Homo sapiens: one gene and its partner. The protein of the gene in region 1 interacts with the protein of each later gene in a biochemical or structural test. Each region holds a gene or a part of one and is shown on either strand. Other genes may lie near its edges. The genes, in order: ATG7 and IRF2.

Region 1 (9,373 bases):
AAGTACAGTACTAACGTACATGATGTTGGAGAAGTACAAGCCAAACCGTGTGTGTGTGCACGTGCGTGCAGTTTCCTGATTTTTAAACACTGGCGACTGATGCCATTTTTTAAAAATTGGCAAGTAATTCTGGCGTTTAAAAACATTGGCAACTCAGTTTTTACAAAACCCTGTTCAACTGTAACCAGTCATATCTGTGGCTGTCAGTTTGGGACCTCTGGATCCCAGACTCCCTTTTTCATTGACTACTTAGATTTTTTTCTCTGACACCTCTGCCCACTGGCCAGATTTCTTCAGTGACAGAAAGCTTTCTACTTCTGGTTGCTCCTGTTTGGTCCTCCCCCAGTTCTGACTCTTAGGTTGAGCTGAAAGCAGCTACTCGGTAATCTTAGCTCACTGTTCCTCCTTCAGGCTCTTGGAATCACCCCTGCATTTAATTGCCCTATACATCATTGAAAGCTGCTAGTTTGTCTTCCTCTTCTCACCTTTTCTTCTCTAGGCTAAGCATATTTAATGTATTTGCTCATAGTAAACTTAACAGTGACAGCAAATTTTGTCATGTTTTGTTATATCCCCAGCATATAGAGCAATGCCTAGCATATTATATATGCTCAATAAATATTTGTTGGATGAATGAATAAAACAAATATTTGCCTGTTATGTGCCTGGCATTATTGTGGGCACTGGTGATCTATCAGTAAAATAAGAAGAAAAAGAACCCTGTTTCATGGCACCTTCTAATAATAGTGGTGGTGGTGGCGGTGGCGGCATTGTCAGTAAGGGTTGGTAGGTGTTTCCGATTCTGAAACGTACAGGGTCATGGGATGGACAGTAATTGGGGGGAAGCATAAAAGCTAGCTAGTCAGGGATGGCTTCCCTGAGGAAGTGACCTAACACTTGAATAAAGAAAAGTCCAGTCTTGGAATGGCTCATGTTGCTAAACTGCTTTCCCATCCCCCAACGCTGCTCCAGTCTTGTTAAGCTGCTTGCAGGTGTGTGTCACCTATAGCCCTTTGCTTCTGCTGCTTCGAACATCTCCCCTTCCTCTTCCATTTATCTTGGCCAACTCCTTCCTGCCCTCATGTGACATGATTTTGAAATCCTTTAAGAGCTGAGTACTGGACTTTCCATTACTCAACCACAGGTTCCGTTTTTCGTTCCCAGCCAGCATCTCATTATAGAGAATAAACATTTATTGAGCTTCAGCTGTGTGTCTGGCACTGCGCTGCAAGCTGGGAATACAAAAATGAGTAAGATACACATCCCTGTCCTCAAAGAGTTTACTTTTTTTTTAAGCCAAGGAGATAGCAACGGTATGGCATGAAGCTATTGCGGAGGTTTGGTAGAGGAGGACTTAGGGTACGCATAAGTCAGGCTGACTCATCAGAGAAGGTTTCAGTGAGGAGGTGCTGCTTTAGCCAAGACCTGAAGGACGAACGAGATCTGACAGGTGAAGAGTGGTTCGAAGTGAGATGAGCAAAGGGCTAGAGGTGAGAATGCATGGCCTGCTTGTGGTTCACTGGAGTGCCAGTGTGGAGGTGTAGGATGAGAGGTGACTGGAAAGGTAAGCACTAGCCACATCGTGAAGGGCCCTGTGGACAATAGCATGTTACCCGCACATAGACTTTGGGATCCAAGATAGCTGCGTACCAATATTCCCATTGCCACTGAACTAGTTTTGTGACCCTGGGCAAGTCACTTCTTTCTAAGCTTCAGTTTCCTCATCTCTAAGAAGGGGAAATAAAAACTGTACGAGGTGATATGTTACTCACTTGACACTGGTAGATGATAAATACTCAATAAACAGTAGTCATTAATATTGCCAGGCCCAGAAGTTTGGACTCTAAAATGTGGGGGCGGGGGTGGAGAGCAGGACACTGAAGATTTTAAAACAGATGCGACATCCTCTCATCTGTTTTAAATTACCCAGGCAGCAATGTGGTGATTACACTGGACAGAAAAAGACAAGCAGGGGACCAGTTGGGTATAGTTGCAGTGATCCAGGTGACAGGATGAAGATCTGGATGAAGGCAGTGACAGTGGAGATGGAGAGGAGTGGGAGGAGTTGAGAGATTAAGGAGGTGGAATTTGCTGGACTTGGTAACTGATAGGATGAAACAGAAGAAGGGGACAAGAATCAGGATCCTGATGACGGGAGGGCAGAAATGAATTTGCTGTGTGGAATTGAGCAGTAACAAAATTCTTTGACTAGTGTCTCTAATAGATTAACCCTGACCTCTGATTTTATTTGGAATTCAGTTTGCCTCTGTCGTCCACTTCTACCCATGGAAATGACGTTCGCTAATGTCTTCCTCTCCTCTTTTTTTTTTTTTCTTTTTTTTTGAGATGGAGTCTCACTCTGTCGCCCAGGCTGGAGTGCAGTGGCACGATCTCGGCTCACTGCAAGCTCTGCCTCCTGGGTTCACTCCATACTCCTGCCTCAGCCTCCCCAGGAACTGGGACTACAGGTGCCCACCACCATGCCCGGCTAATTTTTTTTTTTTTTTTTTTTTTTTAGTAGAGATGGGGTTTCACTGTGCTAGCCAGGATGGTCTCCATCTCCTGACCTCGTGATCCGCCTGCCTCAGCCTCTCAAAGTGCTGAGATTACAGGCGTGAGCCACCGCTTCCTCTCCCCTTTCTATCTCCTGATCTCCCCACCCTTCTCCAGTGCGATTAAGGCCTGATTGTATAATCAAGGGACAATAAATACTGGAGGTGCTGCTCTGTTAATTGGTAGTCAGTAGGTATTACCATGATCTTGGCAGACTGAGGAATAGCCTATTCACTCCATCTCAGACCGGCTTCAGAATGATCACTTTTGGGATTTCCTCACACCTTCATCCCAGTTACCATCCTTGAACTTGCTCTGGTTTGTCAGCCTCTCTTTGAGTGTGTGGTACAGAAAGGAAATCCTCTTTCCTTGAGGACTCTAACCATGCAGAGCAAGACTGCACTTTTCTTGTGGTAACCTAAAGCCCTGCCAGCTCCATTATAGACACATTGTGCTTTTGACACTATTACACTAGTGTGCCACCAAATAGGCCCTCAGCGTGGCTCAGCCCTCCCCATATCCTCAGGCAGCTCTCTTGTCCATTTCCCTTTATGTCTTCCTCATATTCATTCCTCTCCTCAACCTCCTACCTTGACTTTTGCTCCACTAAGTTGCAGCCATTAATTAAGGCATCGCAGCTTCCTCTTCTATCCTTTACCAACTGATCTTTAGCTGACCCTATCCTTTTGCCTTTTATTCTAATTCTGTGAAAGAAATGGTGTTTTAAGACTAAGTCCTCTATTTGTGCTTGAGATCCCATCGCCTCCTTTGCCTCAAGGACTGGGTTCCATCATTTGTTCATTTTCTTTTCTGTTTCATCAACCCTTCTCATTTAAATATTCTCTGTTTACTCTCATTTTGGAAAAAACAAAAACCCTCCAATTAACCTATGCTGCACCCTGTCACACCTCTTTTACCCAGCCACCTTTCTTGGAAGAGTTATCTAGAGTTGCTTCCTGTACTTCCCTAAGTCATTGCTAAAATCCTGCTCTCGTCCCACCACTCCCCAAAGTCATCAGACCTCGACATTGCCAGAATACCTGACCACTTTTCCTTCTTATCTTTCTTGGCACATCTGACATTGCTGACCTTGCCCCTCACTTAGGAAAACCCAGTCCTACTTTGTATTATCTCTCTGGCCATTTGTCCCTCAATTTCCATTGTGGGCTCCTTTCTTCCCCTTTGTCCCTCACATGCCAATTTTTGCCAAGACTCTGCCCTCTACTATATTCTTTTCAACCGCAGCTTCAAACTTGTTTATATGCTCATGACCCCTGTTCTGTATCATAGCCCGAATCTCTCCTGAGTGCTACCCTCAAACTCAAACAAGTCTAAAACTAAGCTCCTCATCTTCCCTTTGAACCTGCCGTTCTTTCTCCATTCTTGAATCTTGCCAATTCCTCTCCTTTCATTTAGTCATCCAAAACAGAACCCTGAGAGTCATCTCAGACTCTTCCTCTGGTACTAGCCCTCCTTTCCATCTTCCAAGTCCAGGTAGTCATCAGAGTTCTATAGATTCGACTTTGTTGCTATCTCCTGACTCACATCTCCTCCATTTCCTCCCTTGCTCCCTCATTTCAGGCTCCCCTCCCTTTTTGCCTGTCTTTCTGCACAGCCTCCCAGCTGGTTGCCCTGCCTCAGCAGTCTGGTCCTCACTGCTGTGGATTGCCTTTACTAAAATAGAGATCTATGCAGAAATACAGTTGCATAGCTTTTCACATAAGGCTCTTCATGATATGGCCTTTGCCTGCTTTTATGGCATGGTCCATCTACTCTGCCCCATGTGCCTCTCCTTGCTGCCATACAGAACTCTATCAGGGGAACCTGCCCCCAATATTTCAAGGTATGTTCTTTCTATTTTCCATAAGTGTCAGCTGGCTGAGAAATAAAGAGAAAGAGTACAAAGAGAGGAATTTTACAGCTGGGCCTCTGGGGGTGACATCACATATTGGTAGGACTGTGATGCCGACCCGAGCTGCAAAACCAGCAGGTTTTTATTAAGGACTTCAAAAGGGGAGGGGGTGTGCGAACAGGGAGTGGGTCACAAAGATCACATGCTTCTGAGGAAACAGGACAAGGACAAAATCAGAAACTCCTGATAAGGGTCTATGTTCAGCAGTGTATGTATTGTCTTGATAAACATCTTAAACAACAGAAAACAGGGTTCGAGAGCAGAGAACTGGTCTGACCTCAAATTTACCAGGGTGGGGTTTCCCAATCCTAGTAAGCTTGAGGGTACTGCAGGAGAACAGGGCATATTTCAGTCCTTATCTCAACTGCGTAAGACAGACACTCCCAGAGCGGCCCTTTATAGACCCCCCCCCCCCCACCAGGAATGCATTCCTTTCCCAGGGTCTTAATTATTAATATTTCTTGCTAGGAAAAGAATTTAGTGATATCTTCCCTACTTGCACGTCTGTTTATAGGCTCTCTGCAAGAACAAAAATATGGCTGTATTCTGCCTGACCCTGTAGGCAGTCAGACCTTATGGTTGTCTTCCCTTGTTCCCTGAAAATCACTGTTATTCTGTTCTTTTTCAAGGTGCACTGATTTCATATTGTTTAAACACACATGTTTTACAATCAATTTGTACAGTTAACACAATAGTGGTCCTGAGGTGACTTACATTCTCAGCTTACAAAGATAACAGGATTAAGAGATTAAAGACAGGCATAAGAAATTATAAAAGTATTAATTTTTGGAACTGATAAATGTCCATATTAAAATGAAATCTTCACAATTTATGTTCAGAGATTGAAGTAAAGACAGGCATAAGAAATTATAAAAGTATTATTTGGGAACTGATATATGTCCATATTAAAATGAAATCTTCGCAATTTATGTTTCTCTGCTGCAGCTCCAGCCGGTCCCTCCGTTCAGGGTCCGTGACTTCCCGCAACAGAACTCATTTGTATTTTCTCAAACATACCATCCTGGTTTGTTCTTTCATTGTTTCAGTCATCAACAAGTATTTATTGGGCACCTGTGAGGTGCGAAGACTGGTGTTAGAAAAACAATGACGAATAGGGGAAAATGAGAAGCTGGCACGGTTCCTTTCTCATAGAATTTTTATTTATTCATTCTTTGTTTCAGTCATCAACAAGTATTTATTGGGCACCTATGAGGTGCTAAGTCAGGTGCTAGAAAAACAATGATGAATGGGGGAAAATGAGAAGCTGACATGGTTCCTTTCTCATAGAATTTTTATTCTACTGAGGAGGATAACTGCATACGTGCTATGAAGGTAAGGTAGTTGGTGCTCTTTGAGGACTAGAATACAGGAGGATCGACCTAATCCAGAGCTGAGGGAGTCAGGGAAGGCTTCCCTCAGAAGTGATGATTGAGCTGTGATTTGAAGTGAGCAAAGAAATTCACTAGATGATGGGTATGTGGAGGTGGCCAAGAAAATTCTAAGCTTATGCAGAGGCCATGGGGTGTTTCTGCAGCTGATGATGTGGAGCTGAGTCAGCTTCCTCCCTTTGCCTGGAGAGTCCCCACTCCCTACCTCTAGCCTCCTCATCCAGGGGTCCTTGCATGGGGCTAGTGCTGTCATCTAACCCTCCCTTTCTCAACCATCAGGGGTGGGTTTAGAAGTTTGTGGAGCTGTTTTATTTTGCTTTGTTTTGTGACATTGACCAGAGGGCATTACTGCATTTATTGAGAGAGAGCCAGAGATGCTCAACATTCTGCAGTGTGCAGGGATAGCTCTAAACAAAAAAGAATTGTTCCATCCAGCATGCCAGTAGGGCCCCTGTTGAGAATCTACTTGGATGTTCTTAAAACCTTGGGTTAAGGGTTTCTATAGGATATTCTTAAAACCTTGGCTTGGCTGGGTGTGGTGGCTCACGCCTGTAATCCCAGCACTTTGGGAGGCCGAGGCGGGTGGATCACAAGGTCAGGAGTTCGAGACCAACCTGACCAACATAGTGAAACCTTGTCTCTACTAAAAATACAAAAATTAGCCAGGCATGGTGGCGGGTGCCTGTAATCCCAGCTACTCAGGAGGCTAAGGCAGGAGAATCGCTTGAACCCGGGAGGCAGAGGTTGCAGTGAAGCCGAAATTGAGCCACCTCCCTCCAGCCTGGGTGACAGAGCAAGACTCTGTCTCAAGACTCCGTCTCAAAAAACAAAAAATAAAAAGCAAACAAACAAAAAAACCCCACCTTGGCTTAAGGGTTTCTATAGGAAACACTGTTGCCTCATCAGTCTAATTTAGATATCCCTCCTCCTATAACATTCTGTACAAACGCCAGGCTATACTGTATTTGTTTTACCTCCAAATTGCTATACTCCGATTCCTCTTCTGTTTTGTTGTCTGTTTTGGCTTCAAAATTGTTAGCTCTTTAAAGGTGGGGACCATAGTTTTTTTTTTTTTTGCCATTGAACCCTGAAATGTAGCACAGGGACAAGTATGTAACATAACTGTTTATTGAAGAAATAACTAATGGAAGCCCCAATTTCATTTCTTTTCTTTTCTTTTTTTTTTTTGAGACAGAGTCTTGCTGTGTCACCCAGGCTGGAGTGCAGTAGTGCTATCTCAGCTGACTGCAACCTGCGCCTCCCGGGTTCAAGCAATTCTCAAGCTTCAGCCTTCCGAGTAGCTGGGATTACAGGCGCCTGCCACCATGCCCGGCCCTTTTTTTGTATTTTTAGTAGAGACGGGATTTCGCCATGTTGGCCGGGCATGTTATTGGTAAACAATATGATATTAGTCCTGCTTTTTGAGTGTCTCCTATGGGCCAGATGTATGCATTTTCTAGTTGAATCTTCACACTAATTCTGCACAGTAGGTGGTATCCCCATCTAACAGAAGAGGAAACAGACTCGGAGAAGTTGAATGACTTGTCCAAGGTGGTGTGGCTAGAAAGTAGCAGAGACAGGATTTGAACTCAGGTCTCTCTGGCTCATGAACCTATGCCCTTTCCAGTCTAGCAGACCATCTGCCTTGTCCAGTTGTTTTCTTGAACTTAGATTTAGGGCCCTAGATTTACCTCTATGAAATTTCAAATCTTGTTAAAATAGGCCTGCCATTCCAGATGGTTGGAATCTTTTTTTATCCTGAATTTTAGTCACTTGTATTGCCTGTTTCTTCTTTTGTCATGAAATTGATAAGCAAATCTATATCATTATCCAAGTTATTGGTAAAATATGGTAATAAGAATACTTTATTGAATATGTTTATTTGCCTATTCCCCCTGCTCTTAGCCCCAGCACAGGGTTCAGTGCACATGAAATACTTAGTAAATGTTGATAAATATTCATTCATGTGGATAAATAAAATAAATTGGACAGGCCCAGAGACTAAGCCAAAGACGTACTGCTATTAGCTCCTTTCTAATTAACATTAATTAATTCAGTAACCAAGATCCTTTGAATAAGATTATTTTACCAGTTCTTAATCCCTCTAATTATGTCAGGATCCAATTCCTGTATCTTCACCTTGTCTACCGGGATTTCTAGAGCAGCCTTGTGAGAGACATTTCTGAGACCTGTATGTCCTGCGTCTATGATTCTTCCCTGATCAAGGTAGGAATGCAGTTACTCTGTCATGACTTTTTCTTAGAGAAACCATATTGGCCTCTTGTGATTACTTAGGGCTGCCTCATACAGTTATGCAGGCTGTGCACTGCACAAGAGGCCACATCAAAGGGGGTTCCATTTATATCATAGGTATCATGGGTGCATTTTTGTAATGACAGTGGCAGAGAAGGCTACCATGTCTTGAGCTAATCTAATCAGTATATTACAACATTTCTCTAACTAAAGGAAGTAAAATCTTGAAGCAGAGGTGTAATTTTCTGATTGTACAAAGGTGCTAAGTGGACTAGAGTGGCCCATATGGGCCTTTCCTGGGAGCAAAACTTCTGTCCAGTGGTCTTTAGAACCCATCTTTATTCTTATCTTTGAAAAATCAGGCCGGGTGTGGTGGCTCACGCCTATAATCCCAGTACTTTGGGAGGCTGAGGCAGGTGGATCACCTGAGGTCAGGAGTTCGAAACCAGCCTGGCCAATATAGTGAAACCCTATCTCTACTAAAAATACAAAAAATTACCTGGGCGTAGTGGCGGGCGCCCATAATCCCAGCTACTTGGGAGGCTGAGGCAGGAGAATTGCTTGAACGTGGGAGGCAGAGGTTGCAGTGAGCCGAGATCGTGCCATTGCACTCTAACCTGGGCAACAAGAGCGAAACTCCATCTCAAAAAAAAAAAAAAAAAGAGAAAAGAAACAAAGAAAAATCAAACATTTTGAAAATCGGAAATCAGGCCTTTGCTTGGCCCAGTTTTAAAGTACTTCTCCCGTTTCTCAGGATTCTTTAAACATACCAGAAATGAAAACCACAGAGATGTAATTATTTAGAAGCAAGCCTTCATAACTCAGCCAGCTTTTAGGAAACCATCATAGATTTTAGTTGTTGGTTGGCATAGGGCTCCACAGTGATTTAGACAAATCCAGGTGGGTGTCTCTCAGATGAACAGAGAAATGGGCAACACTGTTGATCAGTGGAGGTAACAAAAGGACTCAGAAGGAGGCACACTGCCCTCCATCTTCCTGGCATTATTGCTTCCTCTCTCCTCTTTCCCACATTTTCTCAGCTGTCACTGTCCCTCCCATGTAGGCTTCTCAAACCCCATAATGCTGGTATCCAGTGCATCCGTTCTCAAAAACTGAAGCTGATGGACACCAGATTGCATGTGAAGGTGAAGGATATTATAGCAGAAGGAAACCAAAATAAAAGAAAAACAGCTCCTGGAAGTAACCAATGAGAAGGACAGATAAGAGTTTGAAGACTGTGGATGTGACTGCTTGTTCCCTGGTTGAC
Region 2 (10,515 bases), on another chromosome or scaffold:
CAGGTAAGTTTGTTATTCCTGTCTTTTCACCTGTCAGGAGTCAGTGTTGCTGTCTGTTTTGCCGCTTGGTGGTCCAGGGAAATCAGTTCACATGTCGAGAGAGAGAGAGAGAAACAGATAGAGACTGGTTAGTGAGAGTGTTGATGCTCATCTGAGAGCATTTCGATATTGGGATTTCCCTGCTTCTCTCATGGGCTTTCACTCGAGAGCTGGAAAGTTTCTAAAGTACCCACGATGTCTGGATGGAGAGAAGCCATTGTCCCTTACCAGGGCATAAAGCAACACACTCCTATGGGGGAATTTGGCCTGAGAGATAACGTAATTATATTAACTTGGTATCCAGATCATAGCCCAGAAAACAGACTGACTTTTCTCTCCTGGTCAGCCGCATTCAGGATACACCTAAAATCTGCATGGACGTGCTTATCTACTTTTTTCCCCAAGTCATGTATATTAAGTGAAATACGGTAAAATTCACCCCTTTTAAGGCACACGGTCCTATAAATGTTGACAGACGCACTCAGTGATGTAACTACCACCATAGTCAAGACAGAACATTTTCATCACCCCAACACGTTTCCTCCCTGGCCCCAGCCCTCGCACCCACAGCCGGCTGTCTTTATCACTTCCCAAAGGTTTCAAGAGTCCACTTGTCAGAAGTCTTGACATTTTTCTAGAAAACATTAATTGTCACGTCCCGTATTTGCAGATTGTCACAATCCCCTGCAGGACTCCACTCTGGCTCCAGTCAGTGAGCCTCGGCCCCATCACATGTCCATTTATTCAGGGGAGAGTCCCTGAGCGCCTCTCCGGTGGGAGTTGTGAGCATGTGTCATGACTGGACACAAAAAGTTCATACTTTGGTTGAGGAGAGATGCCATTGACCAACTCAAAGCTCCATACGGGTATATAGCGTTAACCAGCAACTTGAGGTCAGAAGTGTCACAAGGTCGCGGCCCATCGTAGTTTCGGCCGAGTGACGGGGACAGTGAGTGAGAGGCACCCAGGGGAGAGAGGCCAGTCTGTGCTGGCGGGTCAGGAAGGGGCTCCAGAAGTCAGGGGCATGGTGAATGCTGCCTGTTGCTCAACCCCCACTCCTGTGCCACTACCTCATTGAAGCCTTTGATTCCTCAAACTGGAAAAAACACCCCACTTCTCTAGCTTCCATTGTATGGCCCCCTTCTTTTTCTTTTCTTTCTTTTCAGTGCTCACGGCCTTAAACTGACTCTCTAGATGGTTAGTCGCTGGCCTATAGCCATGTATATGAACTTCTTACAAACCGGATCCTTGACTGCATCGATCTTCCGCTGCTCCTTCTAGCCCTGGGAGGCTGGGAGGTGCAAGCAGGTGTTCCATAAATCTCTGTTAGTTGAATAACCGACTAGGACGTCATGGGGAGAAGCAGTGAGAGAAAGAATTCCTGGTTGGAACAAAGGGATCTGACTAGGGGGATACTTGAGCTGCTGCCATTGTTTGTAGTCCCAGCTGGCTTGCCCTCTTTCTGTTAGGAGCAACGTGCAAAGGAGAGATGAGTTTTGAAATATTGGAAGTTAAAATGGCTTTGACTTAAGTCACATTTATCTAAGACCTTCACTGCCTTAGTATGCAAGGTATCGCTGCGCCCTCCCTCCTCAAACTCTCACACCCCATTTGGTTTCTACCTCCACCCACCAGCTGCTTCTTAGGACTTAGGATAGGGCAGGCCATTATCTTGTTTTCCTGCCATTTTATTTTACTTGGCTGGAAGAGGCAGAGGAAACTAGAGAGAGGTTGGTGTAGGTCAGCGTCAGTCTGTGTCTAGTGACCTGCATAATTGATGTCCTCACCCTCACGTAGGATAATCCAAAGGATGAAATAAATGGGCTTGGGAGTCTGCCTGCCATATATAGCCTGCCTGCCTTTTCTTTAATTTTATCCCCACCAGGAAAACCTAAACAGGATCCGGTTTCCCTTCCATTCTGTATGCTGTGGCTTTTGGACTCTTGTATCACAGCCCCAAATCCCCTTTCTGAGCCTCTTTTGTGCCTTTCCTTTCTTTATTAAAGAACCTATGAATTGCCACTGCCCTCTAAAACCTTCCCTGCGTAGAAATCAGATAATGTGCTTGTCACTCCACAGACAGCAATTAAAACAGGAACCTGTTTATAAACAAAAATACTTCAGAAAATAAAATACTTGGAGTGATTAAAACGAGCCTCTCCATGACGCCTGGCGTCTCAAGGAGACTGGAATGCGTTCTAACCTGAATACTTTGCCGATTGGTGAGAAAATGACTGCAACATAGAGCACCACATATACTCCAAGCTGTGCGAGTCTGGACAAGTCACTCTCCCTCTCTGTGCCTGAGTTTCTTCATCTATAACAGGATAACGATGCTTTCTCTGTCATCCTTATGGGTTAAAATGTTAAAATAACAGATACAGGTATGAGTAAAACGTTGATGATGGTGGCAAAGTGCTTTGAGGACCTTGGGAATTATTTCTTCACCTTTATTTATTGAAGCTAATTTTCAGGGACATTTCATCCAACTAACAGTGGTATGAGGTCAGTTTCATTCAAAATGAGGGCAGGACCTTAGGGACCTTCAAATTAAAATGGCCATGAAACATCATGACTTACCTATGAGAATGGCCAAAATAAATAAACAGTGATGACACGAAATGCTGCCGAGGCTGTGGAGAAATTTGATCACTCAGACACTGCTGGTGGGAATGTAAAATGGCACGGTCACTCCGGGAAGCAGTTTGGCAATTTTCTTGTAAAATTAAACATGAAATTACCATATGACTCAGCAATTGCATTCTTGGGCATTTATCCCAGAGAAATGGAAACTTATATTCATACAAAACCTGAACACAAACATCCATAGCAGCATTATTTGTAATAGTCAAAGGCTTGTAGCAACTCAGACATCCTTCAGAGGGGAGAATAAACACACTGGTACACCTATACCGTGGAATACTACTCGGCAATTGAAAAGGAACCGATGACTGATACACACAACAACTTGGGTGACTCTGCGGTGAATTATGCTGAGTAAAAAAAAAGCCAGCCCCAAAAGTCTACTGTATGAGTCCATTAATATAACATCCTTGAAATGAACAAATTAATGAAATGGGGAACAGATTAATAGTTGCCCAGGGGTCATGGACAAAGAGATGGATGGGGAGGTACTGAAGGAAGGTGGCTATGGTTACAAAGAGTAACGTGAGAGAGATTGGTCGTGATGGAACTGTTTGGTGTTTTGACAGTGGTGGTAGGTACATGAACCTTTATGTGTGATAAAATTGCACTTAGTCCTGGTGCAGGTACACACTCACACAAAAGAGTGCAAGTAAAACTGAGGAAATCGGAACAAGATGGGTGGATTGTTATTTATGTCAATACTCTGGTTGCGATATTGTATTCTAGCTTTGTAGCCTATAACCATTGGAAGAAGTTGAGTAAAAGGCACACAGGATCTCTCTGTATTATTTCTTACAACTGTATGTGAGTTTACAATGATCTCAAAATAAACAATATAAGAAAAATATTTGAGGCAGTTTTCAGAGCCAGGGTGGTCAGAATCCATCTTATCAGTGTTCCGGGGAGCTGATGCTACTAATGTTTGCCAGAATTGGAGATCTGACTCTATTCCATTGTGCTGATATTTCAGCCAGTTGGACATGTTGCCTGTAGAGCAGGAAGAGAGCTGGGAGCGTAAGCAGAGCGCCACCCAGCTAGATGGGGACCTTGGGCATTTATCCCAGAGAAATGGAAACTTATGTTCATACAAAACCTGAACACAAACATTCACACAGCTAGATGTGACACAATTGGGTAGATTTTCATGGCCCTTCCTCTTTAGTAAGGTTTGATAATGTCTCCCTGGATTGTAGAACCCAGAAAATAAGCACAGCGCCTTCTTTTGGAGCAAGAGCAGGGAGCAGAAATCGGTCAGGTTCAAAGTACTGTCATGTCTGGCCCTGGGGCTGGGGCTGGATGCCGCCTCTGGTCCTGTGGCCTCGGCTGTGACGGGGTTGACTGTGGAATTCTGCTGAGCTGGAAAGGACATGGCCACCGTGCGTGCCATTGGCAGGCATGCTGGAGATAGACCTGGGGAGCCAAGTGCTGGCCGGCTGCTCCCTGGGAGACATCACACCAGAGCTACAGAGCTCAGGCGTGTTCTTCAGCCCCATGGCAGGGGACAGATGGTGATGGGAGCCTGGCGACCTGGCTCTTTTGGGGAAGACTCTTTCTTGAGAAAGTGTGCTAGAATTGTGAGGTCAGCAGACTTTGCATGATGGCTGTCTTTTCTTTGAAGTTGTAGGACAGTCCCATCTGGACAGCAACATTGAGAATCAAGAGATTGTCACCAATCCGCCAGACATTTGCCAAGTTGTAGAGGTGACCACTGAGAGCGACGAGCAGCCGGTCAGCATGAGCGAGCTCTACCCTCTGCAGATCTCCCCCGTGTCTTCCTATGCAGGTAAGCGTCAGCGGGAGGCTCCGGGAGGCGTGGGAACCGGCCGCGCAGTCCTTTGGTCTAGGGTCACCCATCTCACCACCCCACGGAGCATCCCTCCTCTGTCCTAGGAGTTATTCTCCCTGGAGTTTTTCATACTTTAATTATCTTGATCAACATCTTCTTGGACACTTTTGTTCTCAGGTAGAGGACAGGATCACAGCATTTCTTTACTCAGTTGGCCATGACATTTTTTATTTATTTATTTATTTTTTTTTTTTTTGAGACAGAGTCTCGCTCTGTCTCCCAGGCTGGAGTGCAGTGGGATGATCTCGGCTCACTGTAACCTCCGCCTCCCAGGTTCAAGAGATTCTTCTGCCTCAGCCTCCTGAGTAGCTGGGATTACAGGCGCACACCACCATGCCAGCTAATTTTTGTATTTTTAGTAGAGACGGGGATTCACCATGTTGGCCAGGCTGGTCTCGAGCTCCTGACGTCAGGTGATCCGCCCACCTTGGCCTCCCAAAGTGCTGGAATTACAGGTGTGACCCACAGTGCCTGGCCTCCCATAACATTTTTATATATGGTTACAGATAAGATTTCTTTAGGGCAGTAGTTCATCAGAGTCTAATTTATTAGCCCAAGTTATTAGAAATTTGGCAGAGTGTTTTAATGGATTCTCAGTTTGAGCAGGCTGGATAGGACCTTAGAGATGATCTCTTCCTGTTCCTTCATTTCTGAAAGGGAAGGGGCTTGCGCAGGGTCGTACAGTCAGCAAGTGTTTGGGCCAGGACTTGACCTCAGCCTTCAGACCCCAAGCTCATTGCTAGATCCATTCCATCCACCAAGCGTACTTGTCCTTTCCACATATTTTCTCTTTCTTTTTATATCTAGTACAGGTTCTAATTAGGCCAGATGACTGAGCCATTTCCAATTCTCCAGGGACTTGGCTACATAATGACAGGAGTTGGCCCAGGCAGAGTCACAGGGGGAGGAACAGATCCAGTTGGTTCTTCCATTCTTCCAGAGTAAAAGGATGGCTCCTCTCGTTCGCCAACATTACTTCATCTTCTCCTCTCTTCCTGATGATCTCCATTGAATTTTGTGGAAATCAATTGTAATTAGGAAATATAAATTCTGAGTCAGTGTTACTGCTTGCAGATATTAAAAATAAAAAGCAGAGTCCCCATCCTGGGAAACTGCAGTTCAGCTCTAGCAAATAGTTCAGGGATTCTTCCCTGTGCTCTTTACACGCTGCCAAATGGGATGTCCTCCAGTAGGTGCCACCCCCAACACTGGCTCCGACCAGCGTTGGAATTAGAGTTGACTCAAAGGACTGTTGTTTGTGAATTATCAGCCACTAAGTCTAATCTCATTTTCCCTGAATGCCAACTTTCTTTTTTTTTTCACTTTTAAAAATTGTGGTAAAATACATTAACATAAAATTTACCATTTTAGCCATTTTTAGGTACACAGTTTAGTAGCATTCAGTGCATTAATGTTGTCGCAGCCATCACCAGCATCCACCTCCAGAACGTTTTTCATCTTGCGAAACTGAAACTCTGTCTGCATTAAACACTAAGTCCTCTTTTCCCTCCTCCACCCCAGCCCCTGGCAACCTCCTGCCTATTTTCTATCTCAGTGAATTTGGCTATTCTAGGTACCTCCTATGAGTGGAATCATAGTGCTTGTTGTTTTGTGACTGGCTTATTTCACTTAGCATAGGTCCTAGTGTGCATTTATGCTAGGAGCGTAAGTGGAATGTGAGAATAGACCTTGGCCACAGGAAGATTATAATCTGTCAAACAGGATAAGCTTGTCTTCGGTGCTTTATTCAGCAAATGCGTTTTGGACTCTTACACGTGCCAGTCCCTGTTTGGTCCTTGCCAGAGTGCAGTCACAAGAACTACTATGTTTTGCAAATTTATTGTGCCCTGGGAACCATGCTCAGTGCTTGGGTACAGTTGACTGTTGTTGTTGTTGTTTGTTGTTGTTGTTAATAGAAATAGGGTTCTGCCTTGCTGCCCAGGTTGGTCTAGAACTCCTGGGCTCAAGTGATCTGCTCGCCTCAGCCTCCCAAAGTGCTGGGATTACGGGCATGAGCTGCCATGCCTGGTATGATACAGTTGACTTGTTTAATTATAATTAGAGTAACCCTGTCAGCCTGGGTATCGTCATCATCCCGTTTTTAAAAGTGAGGAATCTGGCTGGGTGTGGTGGCTCACGTCTGTAATCCCTGCACTGGAAGGCTGAAGTGGGAGGATCACTTGAGCCCGGAAATTGGAGACCAGCCTGGGCAACATAGTGAGACCACACTTCTACAAAAAATAAAAAAAGTTAACCGGGTGTGGTGGCATGTGCCCGTAGTCCCAGCCACTTGGAAGGCTGAGGCAGGAGCATCCCCTTGAGCCCAGGAGTTCAAGGCTTCATTGAGCCCTGGTTGCACCATTGCACTCCAGCCTGGGTGACAGAGCGAGATCCTGTCTTAAAAAAAAAAAAAAAGAAAAAAAAATATATATATATGGATCTGCGGCTGGCGTGGGTAGAGCAGCGTGTCTGAGGGAGGAACGATTGGGAGCACAGCTAGAACCCATGAGCCGTTGATGCCAAAGGCCGGTCCTTAACGCCCGCCCTGTGTCGCTGCCCTGGACAGCGCACGGGCTCTGCCGTTCAGAACACAGCCACATCCCGTGATCTCATTTGATTTTCACAAGGACCCACCAAAGGAGGCAGAGCAGAATGTTTATGCCTAAATTTTACAGTAGAGCTAACCGAAGCGTGAAACACTCAGCCACTTTGCTTATATTTACATAGTTATGGCTAAAAACCCATGACTTTCTTCTATAGCCTGCTGCTGCAGGCATCGTTACACTCCATGTGGTTTTCTTTCTCTCTTCTTTTTTTAGGGGGTTGGAGCTTTAGAATAGACTTCTATGTTTATCTGTTGAGTAAGACTTTTCTGAGGTCTTCTTGGGGATTCTGGAAAGACCTCTTCTTGCTGTTCTGCCAGCAGTGGCATTTGCTCAAGCAAAAGATTCCGGAGAACAGCAGATCCATGCAGAGAGAAATGAACATTTCATTACTCTCTTCAGGACATTTGCATAGGTTTGAAAGGAAGGATTTCAGTGCCAGGATGGCAGTCAACAGGAGGTTTTGCTGGAGCCTGGCTTTTCAGCCTGGCCTTTGGTTCTTTCCGTTGTTTTCATTGTCTGGATTCTCCAGAACCTCGTGGAGGGAGGCTTACTGGTTGGAGGCAAAATGTTCCATCGCTGCTGATGTTCTAGAGCTCACAGTGGTGTAAAACATTTCCCTGCTACTGACTGTAGCTAATTTTAGTTCCTCCGTCAGAAATTGTATAACATGCTGTCAGGAAAGGCAGCTTTCTGCGTGTATTCACCTTTCTTGCTTTATGTTCTCCAGTAGAGTCGGCCATTTGCCTGTTTTTCATGATGGAGTTCCTTTGTTTGGGCTGTTCATCTGAATTTCAATCTCCTCTGACCACCTTTTTTTTTTTTTTTTTTTTTTTGAGACGGAGTCTCGCTCTGTCGCCCAGGCTGGAGTGCAGTGGTGCGATCTCGGCTCACTGCAAGCTCCACCTCCCGGGTTCACGCCATTCTCCTGCCTCAGCCTCCCGAGTAGCTGGGACTACAGGCACCCACAACCAAGCCCGGCTAATTTTTTTTGTATTTTTAGTAGAGACGGGGTTTCACCGTGTTAGCCAGGATGGTCTCGATCTCCTGACCTCGTGATCCACCCGCTTCGGCCTCCCAAAGTGCTGGGATTCCAGGCGTGAGCCACCGCGCCCGGCATGCTCTGACCACCTTTATTCATCTGTTTGGGAAACTGGTATTTGGAGGCTGCTGTTTGCTAGTTTTTCCCCCTACTGATCGTTGAATCATAATCCCAGTAGTATATTACAAAACCACATTCAGTTTTGCAAGTCTGTCTTCTCCTCTGTGGTCTAAATATTATGATGAGAAAGAGAAGAGATAGTACTTGCGTTGGATGTTTTAAGACAACATAAAATTCTAGTGTGATTTGTGAAACTTTCATACTAGGGAGGGACATTTCAAAGTGCCACTTTGGGAAGCTCTGGCGGAGAGACATGTCATGTTTAAAGGTGCATTACAAAGTGACCCCTTGCCTGATCTGTGGCATCAGAATTTTATTAGGTGGTTGATGGTTTAGTAGAAGAAAACCACAGTAGAATAATGGGGTGGGGGAGGATGGGTAAGAGGGGCTGGAGAGTAGACTCGAGAAGAAAACATCATCTGAAGGACTCACTGGCTATAATGAGAGAGTGGAGATCGCCTGCTGACCAGCAGCCATCAGTAAAGGCTTTGAATCCTTCGGGAAACCACACCAGGCTTGCATTTTGTTGGGCAGAGCAAAGACACAATCGCTTTGAGATTAAGAGGATTCCGATTTGAAAATAATTTACTCCTGGTGAAAGTAATTGAGAATATGATCAATAGAAAGAAATTCAAATCAAACTTGCTGAACAAGAGCCTTCCAGAAAGTGTAGCAGAATGTCAGAGTGCAAAAAGCCTTTCAGGTGAAAATGCATCCTCTCCCTTCCCGCAGTGTTCCTGCTTAGACAATATGTATATCCTCAGCGAGGCGTTAAAAACTGGACTGGATAGAGAGTGAACCTACAACCAGTGTCACCCTAGAACTGGAAGAGCTTTTGAGATCATCTAATCCAAATCCTCCCCTTCCCTCCCACCCTAGATGCTTTCAGGAAAACTGAGACCAGAAAGGTTAAGTGAATTACTCATGTGCCTGTTGGTACTGTACGAACACCTTCAGCTTCTTCATTTGTTTGGAGTTGCTGGAGAAGCAACTCCAGACTTCTTTATTCCATTGTATTCGAAGTAAGTAATAAACAAAAAGCAAAAACAAATTCAAACTAATCAAAAGGGAAAATGAAATGACAACGTATGTTGATAGTTCGATAGTAACACTGATCTGGAGGCCCAGCTGCAGTCAGCTCCCTTGTGTAAGAAGTCAGCGTGGAAGTGGCAATGGTGGTCAAACCAAGGAAACAGAGGACACGGGGCGCAGTGCATCCAACAAAGCACTTGGAGCCACCGATTCTGGGGTCACAGAGAGAACTGCTCCCCTCAGGGGGAGGTTCAGGGTTCTCTGCTCCTAAGCTAAGGTACTGAAGGCCCCTTTTTGAAACTGTCAGTGTCCTAATAGGGCGCATCTTCCTGACGACTTCAGATGCTGTGGAACTTAATCTAGACACGACGCTCTTTAACTCGCATTTGTGTCAGCTGAAAACATAAGTTCGGAGCATGTGTATCTTTTCTTATCTGCAGCTATTTCCCCGAAGCTGAAAACTGGGTACTTAAAGGAAGTTAGCATCCCGGTCACATTCATGGGCGGTGCAAGGTCTTACCCGGGAGCCTTACCCCAGGATCTGACTTCCAGCCCCTCCTGCACCTGCGACTGGGGCTGTGCTGGAATCCCAGCCCCCAAAGCATGCTTGGTTGCGTATCTTTGTTTGTATTTGGAGGGGAAAGGAAAAGAAGACAGTGATATTTATGGAGAGTCATTAGGAGTGAAGAGCATCTGAACCCGTATGAAAGGAAGAGAAAGCTTGGCTTTGGAGCACAAAGAAAGCTAAGCATAAAATGGAAAGCGGATCTTGAAATGTTGTCAGAGACCAGAACACCAGGGAAGCAGGGCTGCTGTGTGCAGTGCACAGGCCCTGGAATCAGAAGTACAGTTTTGTTTTCTCTCCTCTGTGCTGTCTCAGTTGGCAACTTTGGCAAGTTTCTCAACATCTCTGTTCCTCATTTTTCTTCTTGGGAGTGGCTGTTCCGATTCCTGCCTCCTCAGGATACTGAGCCAGCACGAGGGTTCTCTGAGGAGGGGAATTTTCTTTTTCTGTTGGTTTTCATGTGTTTCTGCGTGGAAACAATTCTTGTGCTCGGCAACGTCAGCTCATCTTCATAGCTGGGATCGTCGTCAGCTGAGGCTGAGGGCTTCTCTGGGTCTCTGTGGCTCCCAGCACGGGGTGTTTTGGGGAAACATGCCCAGTCCGAGGAGTGGAGAGATCTGTC

The links.
Region 2: the proteins of ATG7 (region 1) and IRF2 form a complex in vitro, tested with the Homo sapiens proteins (one study listed by BioGRID).

The regions. Positions count from the first base shown.
Region 1 is NC_000003.12:11,273,024-11,282,396, forward strand, and holds part of ATG7 (ubiquitin-like modifier-activating enzyme ATG7), read left to right. Parts: intron 1-1,190; exon of another isoform or gene 1,191-5,797; intron 5,798-7,970; 5' UTR 7,971-8,079; intron 8,080-9,146; exon of another isoform or gene 9,147-9,169; 5' UTR 9,170-9,373. UniProt on the Homo sapiens protein: E1-like activating enzyme involved in the 2 ubiquitin-like systems required for cytoplasm to vacuole transport (Cvt) and autophagy.
Region 2 is NC_000004.12:184,392,868-184,403,382, reverse strand, and holds part of IRF2 (interferon regulatory factor 2), read left to right. Parts: intron 1-4,303; coding exon 4,304-4,468; intron 4,469-10,515. UniProt on the Homo sapiens protein: Specifically binds to the upstream regulatory region of type I IFN and IFN-inducible MHC class I genes (the interferon consensus sequence (ICS)) and represses those genes. Also acts as an activator for several genes including H4 and IL7.